Homo sapiens: one gene and its partners. The protein of the gene in region 1 interacts with the protein of each later gene in a pairwise test. Each region holds a gene or a part of one and is shown on either strand. Other genes may lie near its edges.

Region 1 (3,359 bases):
AGAAAGGTGCTGTGTAGGCCAGGGAGCTCTGATAAAGACTGCATATGCACCATGGGGTTTAAGCCAGAGGGCTGAACTTGAGCAAGATGTGCCCTTTTGTTGTAAAACCCCTTGTGGACTGGTATCCTCAAATTGCTTCAAGCATTCAGTCTTTTTGAAGGAAGAGACCCGATATTATACTTTCTCAATTATATGCATAAAGTAGCTCTTGACGTATAGTTTCATTTGGATAATTAGGTTTTTCTTCTCCCAAAACCAATACTTGGCTTTCTAGGAGATCACTGCTATTTGAGAAAAAGATGAGGTATCATATGCATTATTTATGGATCACTGGCCTCTCCACTGTTTCTTATCTATTTATCAGGAAAATCTTAGATTAGACTAATGTATTTATGAAAAACCAGTTGAATGTTGTTTTTTTTCCCCCCAATAAGTAATGTGAAAGAGTGGGCAGAAGTTGCTTAGACAGGTTACAGGGGTAAAGAAATTCGACTTGCTCATTTACTGTTTTAAGGTCTTCTTTAATATATCAGCTCATTTTGAGTGATCTCACTTATCAATGGTTCTTGAGTTTTTAGGCACCTTATGCAAATGTTGCAGTCTCCTTAAACTAAATATCTATTAAGCTACATACAAAAATATCTGCAACGGTTTTTTTTTTTTTTGTAGGAATTCTAGCAATAACCACTCATTGAAGTAAAAATCGAATACAGGGCACAGCTTTGTAGAGACAAAATAATCCATGGTTAAGCAAATGTTAGTGTATAGGATGAGCTTCACAAAAACAAAGGCCATTTTCAGCACACTTTTAGTCAGTAGTTAATCAAGGGAAGGCTGCTAATGAGGTAGTTCAATGTCATTTCCCCGACTTAATGGTAGTAGAAAATGAAAGATTAAGGCTATTTAAGCCAACAGGAAAACCATGAATCTTTAAGCTATTTCTGGGTCCTTGTGAAGAATTTGCAAAGTCCCTGATGCTCTCCCTTTACGCACATGGAATATTTTCACCAACACAAAAAACAGTGCTGATTCTGACGCTGCAAGCACTGCACAATTCTCAATTATTTCCCATCGGTGACGCTTTCACCAAAGGCCATGCTACGTTGTTCTGAACCCCTTTCAGGACATCACTATCTCCTCTCTTATCTTTGCCTAGAAATATGATGTTTGGGCAAAGAAGGAAAAGGGATGAGTAAGAAACAGGGATGAGTGGGAGAGAGACAGCAGGAAACAGGGGTGGGAAACTGGACACTGCAGCTTTCTCACAACCCCTGACAGGGTGCGTCATGGGATGCTCGTTATTTTACTTAAGAGTACAATGAGATTCCAGAACATCAGCCAAATCTCTAGTCTAACCTGGGCATAAAATTGCATGCTAAAATAAAATACATTTTTCTCCAAATAATTTATTAAAAATTACACTTGATATTCATGTGGAAATTAAGACCAAACTGCAATGTTTTCCATTTCCAATGTACAAAAAGTTTTGTTCCTGAGAATGGCAAATTCTAAATGATAAGTAAAATAAATATGGCATTTATTTAAGTAGACTGAGCCACAGGTTAATCTTAAGTGGTGTTTGGTTGATGGGAGAGAAAATCCTCCATCAGAATTGTTGTAAGAACTTTCCAATGTGCTTGACATGCATCCGGGAGCAGTGACTTACACCTGTAATCCCAGCACTTTGGGAGGCCGAAGCAGGTGGATCACCTGAGGTCAGGAGTTTGAGACCAGCCTGGCCAACATGGTGAAACTCTATCTCTACTAAAAATACAACAATTACCTGGGCATGGTGGCATGTGCCTGTAATCCCAGCTACTTGGGAGGCTGAGGCAGAGGAGAATCGCTGGAACCCAGAAGGCGGAGGTTGCAGTGAGCCAGGATCCCACCACTGCACTCCAGTCTGGGCGACAGAGTGAGACTCCATCTCAAAAAAACAAAAAAAACAAAGGAATCTTAGTTTAACAGTTTTGGGTTACAGCTCCAGGGATGGGGGTGGGAATGATTGACTATGCATTTGATATGTGTCTTATTAATCATAAGGTTCTTTCCCCCATAGCAAAGTACATATAAATGCAAAGCTTTAGTGCTTAGCTGACTGTAATAGGACATCTTCATAAAAGGAATAAACTTAACACCTCAGCCAATAAGCCAGAGAATCTTACGCTGCACAAGTGTGCAGTTTTAATGTGTTGCTCAGGCTATAGTATTATTTTTTAAGTTTTTGGTTTTCTTTTATACCATGCATTTATTTCCCTCTGAATTAATCACAGGTATTTTCTTTAACATAAGCTATTTTAAGTATAAACTTTATTCCTGAATATCTTCAGATACTTTCTGCTAGTTCAAATAAACTCACACAGACATTAATCCAATTTGAATAACTACATATGAATGAGGCTACAGTATTATTCAATCCAGAGTGTGTCACTTCCGTTCACGAAGGCTTGCTATGCATAAATATAAAAATATTTTATCTTCTGATGCTTTCATTTTTGAAGCACTCCCTTCAAAGGATGTAAAAAAATATTAAATAAAAGAGCTTTCAAAGTGTTCTGTTAGGCTATGATTTGAGGGGGAGATGAATGGAAATGGATATTGATAGTTATTTAACTGGAGATCTTTGTGGTGATATGTGAAAGTATAAACTAACTCCAACAAACTCGTTTTTTCCTGAAACTTTTGGTGTAAAATTATATATTATTATTATTTTGAGACAGGGTCTTGCTCTGTTGCCCAGGCCAGGCTGGAGTGCAGTGGCATGACCTCGGCTCACTGTACCCTTGACCTCCTGGGCTCAAGCGATTCTCCCATCTCAGCCCACTCCCAAGTATCTGGGACTACAGGCATGTGCCACCACTCTTGGCTAATTTTCATATTTTTTCACGGAGATAGGGTTTCACCATGTTGCCCAGGCTGGTCTCGAACTCTTGGGCCCAAGCGAACTGCCCACCTTGGCCTCCCGAAGTGCTGGGATTAACAGGTGTGAGCCATTGCACCCAGCCTGTTATTATTTTGAAAGGTTATTCTGCTTTTACTGAAATGCAACAAACAGTTATTGAGCACCTGCTATATTATTATATAGTCCATTCCTACTAGGCTACCGCAGCCATTGATGATCTTCCTTTGTGTGTGTGTGTGTGTGTGTGTGTGTGTGTGTGTGTGTGTGAAGCTGTTTGTATATTTTCGGTTTTTCGGTTAGTTTGCTTGTGAAGCAGCTTGGAGAAGTCTCATCTACTTTTTATCAGTTGGTTGGTTTTAGAAAGCATCTCAGAAAGTGGACCCAGAAATCGCAGATCTGCCATTAGTATTTATTCTTTGAAGATACTTTGGAGATTCATTTTCTTGAGTGGCACTGC
Region 2 (3,500 bases), on another chromosome or scaffold:
CCTAAAGAACAGTTATGGTTGGGTGCAGTGGCTCACGCCTGTAATCCCAGCACTTTGGGAGGCCGAGTCAGGTGGATCACCTGAGGTCAGGAGTTCGAGACCAGCCTGGCCAACATGGTGAAACTCCGTCTCTACTAAAAATGTAAAAATTAGCCAGGTGTGCACCTGTAATCCCAGCTACTCGGGAGACGAAAGTAGGAGAATTGCTTGAACCTAGGAGGTGGAGGTTGCAGTGAGCCGAGATTGTGCTATTGCGCTCCAGCCTGGGCAACAGAGCAAGATTCTGTCTCAAAACCAAAGAGAGAGAGAGAACAGTTATGATAATATTAGATCTTCTGGATGTCAAAAACTTAACTTTTATACTAATTTTATGGTTATAGTGATATTGTTGAGATGATATGGGACTCAAAAATTGGGGAGAAATCTTCAGTATCTAAATCATTATCTAAATTCTGGAAGCTAATACAGTTGGATCAATTGTTTTGGATAGGTCCAGTAACCTTTGCTGCCACTATCAAAAACTCAGAAATTGGCCGGGTGTGGTGGTCACACCTTGTAATCCTAACACTTTAGGAGACCGAAGTAGGCTGATCACTCGAGCTCAGGAGTTTAAGGCCAGCCTGGCCAACATGGCGAAACTCCATCTCTACAAAAAATACAAAAATTAGCTGGGGATGGTGGCATGTACCTGTGGTCCCCGCTGCTTGGGAGGCTGAGGTGGAAGGATTGCTTGAGCCCAGGAGGTTGAGGCTGCAGTGGACTGGGGTCGTGCTGCCCACTGCACTTCAGTCTGGGCAAAAGAGTGAGCCCCTGTCTAAAAAACAAAAAACAAAACAAAAAATTTCAGAAATTGAAGTGTTTGGGTAATGCAGTATCTTTCTTGATCCAGGTTCTTCCTCTTCAAAGTCAGAATCAAATACGTTGGGATAATAAGAATACTCATATTTTTCTGGTCGGGCATGGCAGCTCATGCCTGTAATCCCAGCACTTTGGGAGGCCGAGGCGGGTGGATCATTTGAGGCCAGGAGTTTGAGACCAGCCTGGCCAACATGGTGAAACTCCACCTCTACTAAAAATACAAAAAAATTAGCCGAGCATCATGGCGGGCACTTGTAATCCCAGCTACTTGGGAGACTGAGGCAAGGAAATTGCTTGAACCCGGAGGCGGAGGTTGCAGTGAGCCAAGACGGAGCCATTGCTCTTCTCTAGCCTGGGCAACAAGAACGAAACTTCATCTGGAAAAAAAAAAAAAAGAATACTTTTATTTTTCTTTTGGAGAAACTGTAGTTTCCCATCAAAAAGTAGTTTTATTATCAGAATAGAGTTTAGTATCTGGTACCAGAAATGTTTGCTTTTATTTGGTAGCCATTTTGTCAAAATTTTCCTAAAGTCATAATTACTAAAATATTTTTATAAATTAGGTCTAAATTTTCTTAAGTTTGTAATATAGTTATTTTGTATATGAATATGTTGATGCATATTACTCTTTCTTTCCTTCATTTACTTGAACATAAACAGATGTATCCTTTAGTAGTAAATTGGCAGATGGATGAGTGGAAATACGTTTTGGAAGAGAATTGAGGTTTTTTTTTTTAACAGTGTAATCGAACATATTACCAAAGTCTGAAATGATAAGATTTTTTTTGTAAGCTATAACTGTTACAATTTAATTAGAAAAAGAGAAAAATTGGCAAGTAATTTTTTAAATTCTGGAGCAGTATGAGGAAGGAAAGTATTTTTATTTATAATGTAAATAATTATTGTATTTATTTTTAATTAAACAAGCCAAGTGACACTTGTAGCAGGATTTTATTTATTTATTTATTTATTTTTTAGAGATGTGGTTTTGCCTTGTTGCCTAGGCTGGAGTGCAGTGGCATGATCATAGCTCATTGCAGCCTCAAACTCCTGGGCTCAAGCAATCCTCCCACCTCAGCTTCCTGAGTCCCTAGGACTATAAGTGTGCACCACTACCCCCAGCTAATTTTTAAAATTATTTTGTAGAGATGGGATCTGGCTGTGTTGCCCAGGCTGACCTCAAACTCCTGGCATCAAGCAATCCTCCCACCTTGGCCTCTGAAAGAGCTGGGATTTCAGCTTTGAGCTACTGCACCCAACCTGCAGCAAGATTTTAAATGCAGTATCCTGCTTAGATATTCCATTTCTAAAATTGGACCAGTCAGGGGACTTTTCAACTATAGAAAACAATTCTAATTGATTTCAGCCCTTAGAATGTAATGGTTTACAAATTAATTCCTCTTAGCGAATATGGTCTACATTTATAAGTGTCTTTTACGAAATTAATTCCATATTTGGCTTTTAAAGGCTTCGATTAAATAGACAATTATAGTATGTTGATATTTATTTTTATAAAGATATTTTTCTACTTAAAAAATGTTTTTAGTTGCATAGATTTCTTTTTATATAATGAGTTAGCCTTATTTCTTAACTGCATTTTGAACTATTAAGGTGTAAAAAGTAGGTCCTATTTTACTATCAAAAGGCAACTTAAATGCCAATTTCTTTCTCAAAATACCAGGTGTTGTTTAGAACAAAAATTATCATAGATGCCTCAGAAAGTTCTCAAAACAAAATTATTATTTATATTTATTTAAAAATCAATAACATTAGTTTTGAAGAATTAATTAAAATGTAAATTTTAAACTTTGCAAAAAATATTGGTAATTATCTATTGAAACATATGCTAAGTTTGACTATAATATTACTTGCTTATTCTTTGGTTGTTTTAGGTCCCTCATAGCTAATCTTGCTGCTGCCAATTGTTATAAAAAGGAAAAACATCTTGATCTGGAGAAAAACTGGATGTTGGTAGAAAAAGCAAGAGTTTGTTATATAGCAGTAAGTACTTACCTAATTCAAATCTCTAGTACATATTTACATGATGGATTATAGTTGTTGTCTGATATATATTTTAAAATAATTATCTTTTATTTACCCTGCAAATTATTTATCTCTCTCAAAGCATATGTTAGATTCACTATTGTGAAAATAGAACAGAAATCATTATCTTTCTATGGGTAACATAATTTGTATTATTTATCTTCAGGTCTACCTATTTTTGGATACATTATGCATAGGTGCTTGCCAACCAAGCGCAGAATTCTATATTAAATCAGTTTCCAAATATATTTTAAAATAATTCTACAAACTTACATCTTACATTTGTAGGCAACTTGCATTGTGCAGAAAAATATTAGTAGTATAAATATTCACTGCAAATAGTTTGAGCTGAATTGCTTAAAAAACTTAATTGCTATTTATTCCATAGTAATTACCATGACACCTCTTAATTTAATATTTCAGAAACATTGATCGTGACAAATCTCTTAAATCTGGGAACAAGGGCAGGGTGTAATTTGAATTATTAAGTCTTCTGACACAAAAATAATTGGTTAAGAATTTATTTCTAAAATAGGATGGTACTAAAAATTCTGAATTAATCACCCCATGATTACCTTGTTTTTATTTAATATGTGTTA
Region 3 (3,498 bases), on another chromosome or scaffold:
GTGGTGGTGCATACCATACCTGTAATCCCAGGTACTCAGGAGGCCGAGGCAAGAGGATCCCTTGAGCCTGGGAGCTGGAGGTTGCAGTGAGCCGAGATTGCACCACTGCACTCCAGCCTGGTTGACAGAGTGAGACCCTGTCTCAGAAAAAAAAAGAAAATGAGATTTCTACATGACAAATTATACAATGTACATATATAATTTTGAAAAAGCAAACAAGAAAGAACTTAAAAAATGATACTCACTGGAAAAAGATTCCTTAGCAAGTATTATGATAGTACTGGGGTCTTTTGAAAGAGCAAAATTCAAAGGTAATCAACTCTAAGAGAAGCACAGGATTTCACAGAAGTGCGCTCAAAATTAAAAATGTGAGCTTTTGGCCTAATCTGGCAAAAATTTGGATCCCTTTGTACTCTTAAAAATTACCAAGGACCACAAAGAGATTTTGTTTTTGTATGGTTTTATCTAGAAATATTTATCATATAGAAATGAAAACTGAGAAATTTCTTAAAATTTTTATTAATCATTTGCAAGTAACAAGAACCAAGTATATATAAACACATAAAAACATTTTTGGCAAATAGCTAATTTTATTTTTTTCACATATTAAAACCCACTAAAAATAACCATTTTTCTAACTAACCACAACAAAAATTAGTGAGAAGAGTACTGCTGCTTTACATTTCTCCAAATCTCTTCAATGTCTGATGACAGACGAAAGCTGGAATCTTGTATCTGCTTTTGCATTCAGCCTATTACAATATCACACCAGATAGCCTCTTGAAAACTCCTCTGCATACTCATGAAAAAATGAGTGAAAAAGATAAATGATGGCTGGGCGTTGTGGCTCATACCTGTAATCCCAGCACTTTGGGAGGCTGAGATGGGCAGATCACTTGAGCTCAGGAGTTCCAGACCAGCCTGGCCAACATGGTGAAACCCCGTCTCCACTAAAAATACAAAAATTAGCCAGGTGTGGTGGTGGGTGCCTATAATCCCAGCTACTCGGGAAGCTGAGGTAGGAGAATTGCTTGAACCCAGGTGGCGGAGGCTGCAATGAGCTGAGATCGTGCCACTGCACTCCAATGTGGGCAACAGAGCAAGACTCCTTCTCAAATAAAAAAAAGGAAAAGCTATAAATAGTGAAATGATGTCTTAGTGTTATAAAAACAGCTTTGACCTAGAATACCCTTGAAAGGCTCTTGAGGCCCCCCCAGACCACACTTTGACAACCACTGCTCTAGACGAATCTCTTCATATATATGAATCTCTTCATATAAGGACCCTGGACCTCAGAAAGAGTAAGTGAGAAACTCAACATCACAGCCTATTAATAGCATGATACAGATATTAGATGGTTTGTCTCACTTCTCTTGGTTTAGATTCTCAATTGGAAACCTGGGAAATACACCCTAATGACCTGTCCTATTCCCTGTAAGTTGCAAAAATTGTCACAATATATTACCCTCTCCCCAACATTTCTTTAATAAAAGAGGTAATCAACAAATTTGGTAAATTTTGCAACAGCCATACTCTGTTTGAACCTAAACTACAATATTTGAATTCAGGTCTCTATTTGAACAGAAACACTAAGGCAAATTTGACTGCATCCTACTCCATGCAAGCTAGTAATGACAAACTGCACAGTAAATATCATAGGTAAATATGGAAAGCAGATTACCCATAATATCAGTATTTATCATGTATTCTGTGTCTGGAATACAATTCAATGACATATTTCAGAAAAATTTTCTCAAGTACTGGCTGAAAGAGTGGGGGATACATTAAGAGACTGCAAATAAACTGGCAATCACAAGAACTTTTTTAGATAAAATGGAGTTGTTCCGAAATGTATACATTTTTCATTCCCTAACCAGACCTTATTCTTGTCTTTTTAAAGAAAATCAAATCTTCTCGGCCACCTAGAGATGATTTCCTTTGTATCCCACCAGATGGTTCAGATCTTCTTTAAATGGATCATAGCCTTGTTCTTTTAAACAACGCAGTCCCCAGAAAAGCTGGTCCAGGGGAGGTAGTTCTTCCCAAGGAACCCACTCCCAACCTAGAAAAGAAAGATGCTAAATCAATTTATTTAGATAACAGAAAACAAAGGGTGTTTATTTGGGTAAGCTAACCTATATTTAGAAAAAATTAATTGAATTTAAAAATAACTTGCTACTAATAAACTCATAGTGATGCTTTGCATTTGCTTGGCTATACAAATATAATTTGCATGTAGAATGAAGGTCTTATGAAGAGAATGGTGGTCATTTAAAACATTGTGTTATTTGAATGTGAAGCCCAGTTTACAAAGGCTATGCCATGGTAAACCCAGATTTAGTATTAGTCAATGTTTATGTAAATATTTTTGTAAAAAATGCAAATAACGTTATATACTATAGGTTATACTACATTAAAATAAACCACTTCCTTCACCTATAAAATAAAGTAGATTACAAAGTTTCTAAGATATCCTCCATCTCTTAAAAAAGTAGAAAGCTGTGCAGAGGAAAATAAAATATTGTACCTTGGTATATTTTAAACAAATACAGAAGGAGATGATTTTTAAAAATCCATTGAAACAAAGATTTAACAGTGTCTATCAGTTATAAAGTACATGAAATTCTAGAAAAAGATTCTAGAGAATGGTGTTTCTTTCATGATTTAAATGTAAATAACATAGACGCACAGATGCTTATGACAAATACCTACATATTATATTAAGATACACACTCCATGTTCTAGTTTCTTTATGATCACCTGTTTTTACTATGTGTAAGCACTAAGTATCTTTCTGTCCATAAAATACAGGTATATAGGTACGTATTTTCACTTTGGGAATGCAGGGGCCGAAAATCCATGAAACTGGAATAAGTACAGGAAGAGTAACTGTGATCAGTAACTGTGACCATACACTAATGAGGTGGGGGCGGGAGGGGGAGAGGGAGGGCGGGAGAGGGAGAGAGAGAGAGCGAGAAAGAGAGACAGACAGACAGACACAGACAGACTGAGTACCCAACAATGTGGTGCAAGATGCTTAATTAACCAGGTCTCCAAAAACCCATCCATGAAGTTTACCCCATCCCCTAGAAAATGAAGTGTCTGGATGAGCCTCCGAACTATAATTAGATGGTTGGAGGAAAGATGCACTAAATAGTAAACTGAAGCAGGCTACCCAGATCCAAGGCCTGAGGAGCACGGGATAGAGAGACTGTGTCTTTATCCTAGAAATAAAACAAAGACCCACCAAGTCCTTGTACCTTGGCTAGGCTGCAGCTGGTTATCAGTGTAGTTGGTTATCAGGCTGCAACTGGGAATAAAGTGAACATAATTCCTGCTGTATTGTTACTAACAGATATAGAGCAATAAATGTTTTTGATCAAATCTGATTTGATGCTAGTAATCTTGGACCTTGTAAATCATACTGCTTTATTTGAGACTACTAGCAAGGTTCATGTCAGGGAGTTAACAAAATGAAAGTGAACAAATAAAAAAGTT

Evidence for each region. The genes of interacting proteins can lie anywhere in the genome.
Region 2: the proteins of SRD5A3 (region 1) and ADK interact in a two-hybrid assay, tested with the Homo sapiens proteins (one large-scale study listed by BioGRID and IntAct).
Region 3: the proteins of SRD5A3 (region 1) and NUDT15 interact in a two-hybrid assay, tested with the Homo sapiens proteins (one large-scale study listed by BioGRID and IntAct).

What each region holds. Positions count from the first base shown.
Region 1 is NC_000004.12:55,370,242-55,373,600, reverse strand, and holds the end of SRD5A3 (polyprenal reductase), read right to left. Parts: 3' UTR 501-3,359; downstream 1-500. UniProt on the Homo sapiens protein: Plays a key role in early steps of protein N-linked glycosylation by being involved in the conversion of polyprenol into dolichol. Acts as a polyprenal reductase that mediates the reduction of polyprenal into dolichal in a NADP-dependent mechanism.
Region 2 is NC_000010.11:74,395,721-74,399,220, forward strand, and holds part of ADK (adenosine kinase), read left to right. Parts: intron 1-2,750; coding exon 2,751-2,859; intron 2,860-3,500. UniProt on the Homo sapiens protein: Catalyzes the phosphorylation of the purine nucleoside adenosine at the 5' position in an ATP-dependent manner. Serves as a potential regulator of concentrations of extracellular adenosine and intracellular adenine nucleotides.
Region 3 is NC_000013.11:48,044,224-48,047,721, reverse strand, and holds the end of NUDT15 (nucleotide triphosphate diphosphatase NUDT15), read right to left. Parts: intron 2,063-3,498; coding exon 1,923-2,062; 3' UTR 501-1,922; downstream 1-500. UniProt on the Homo sapiens protein: May catalyze the hydrolysis of nucleoside triphosphates including dGTP, dTTP, dCTP, their oxidized forms like 8-oxo-dGTP and the prodrug thiopurine derivatives 6-thio-dGTP and 6-thio-GTP.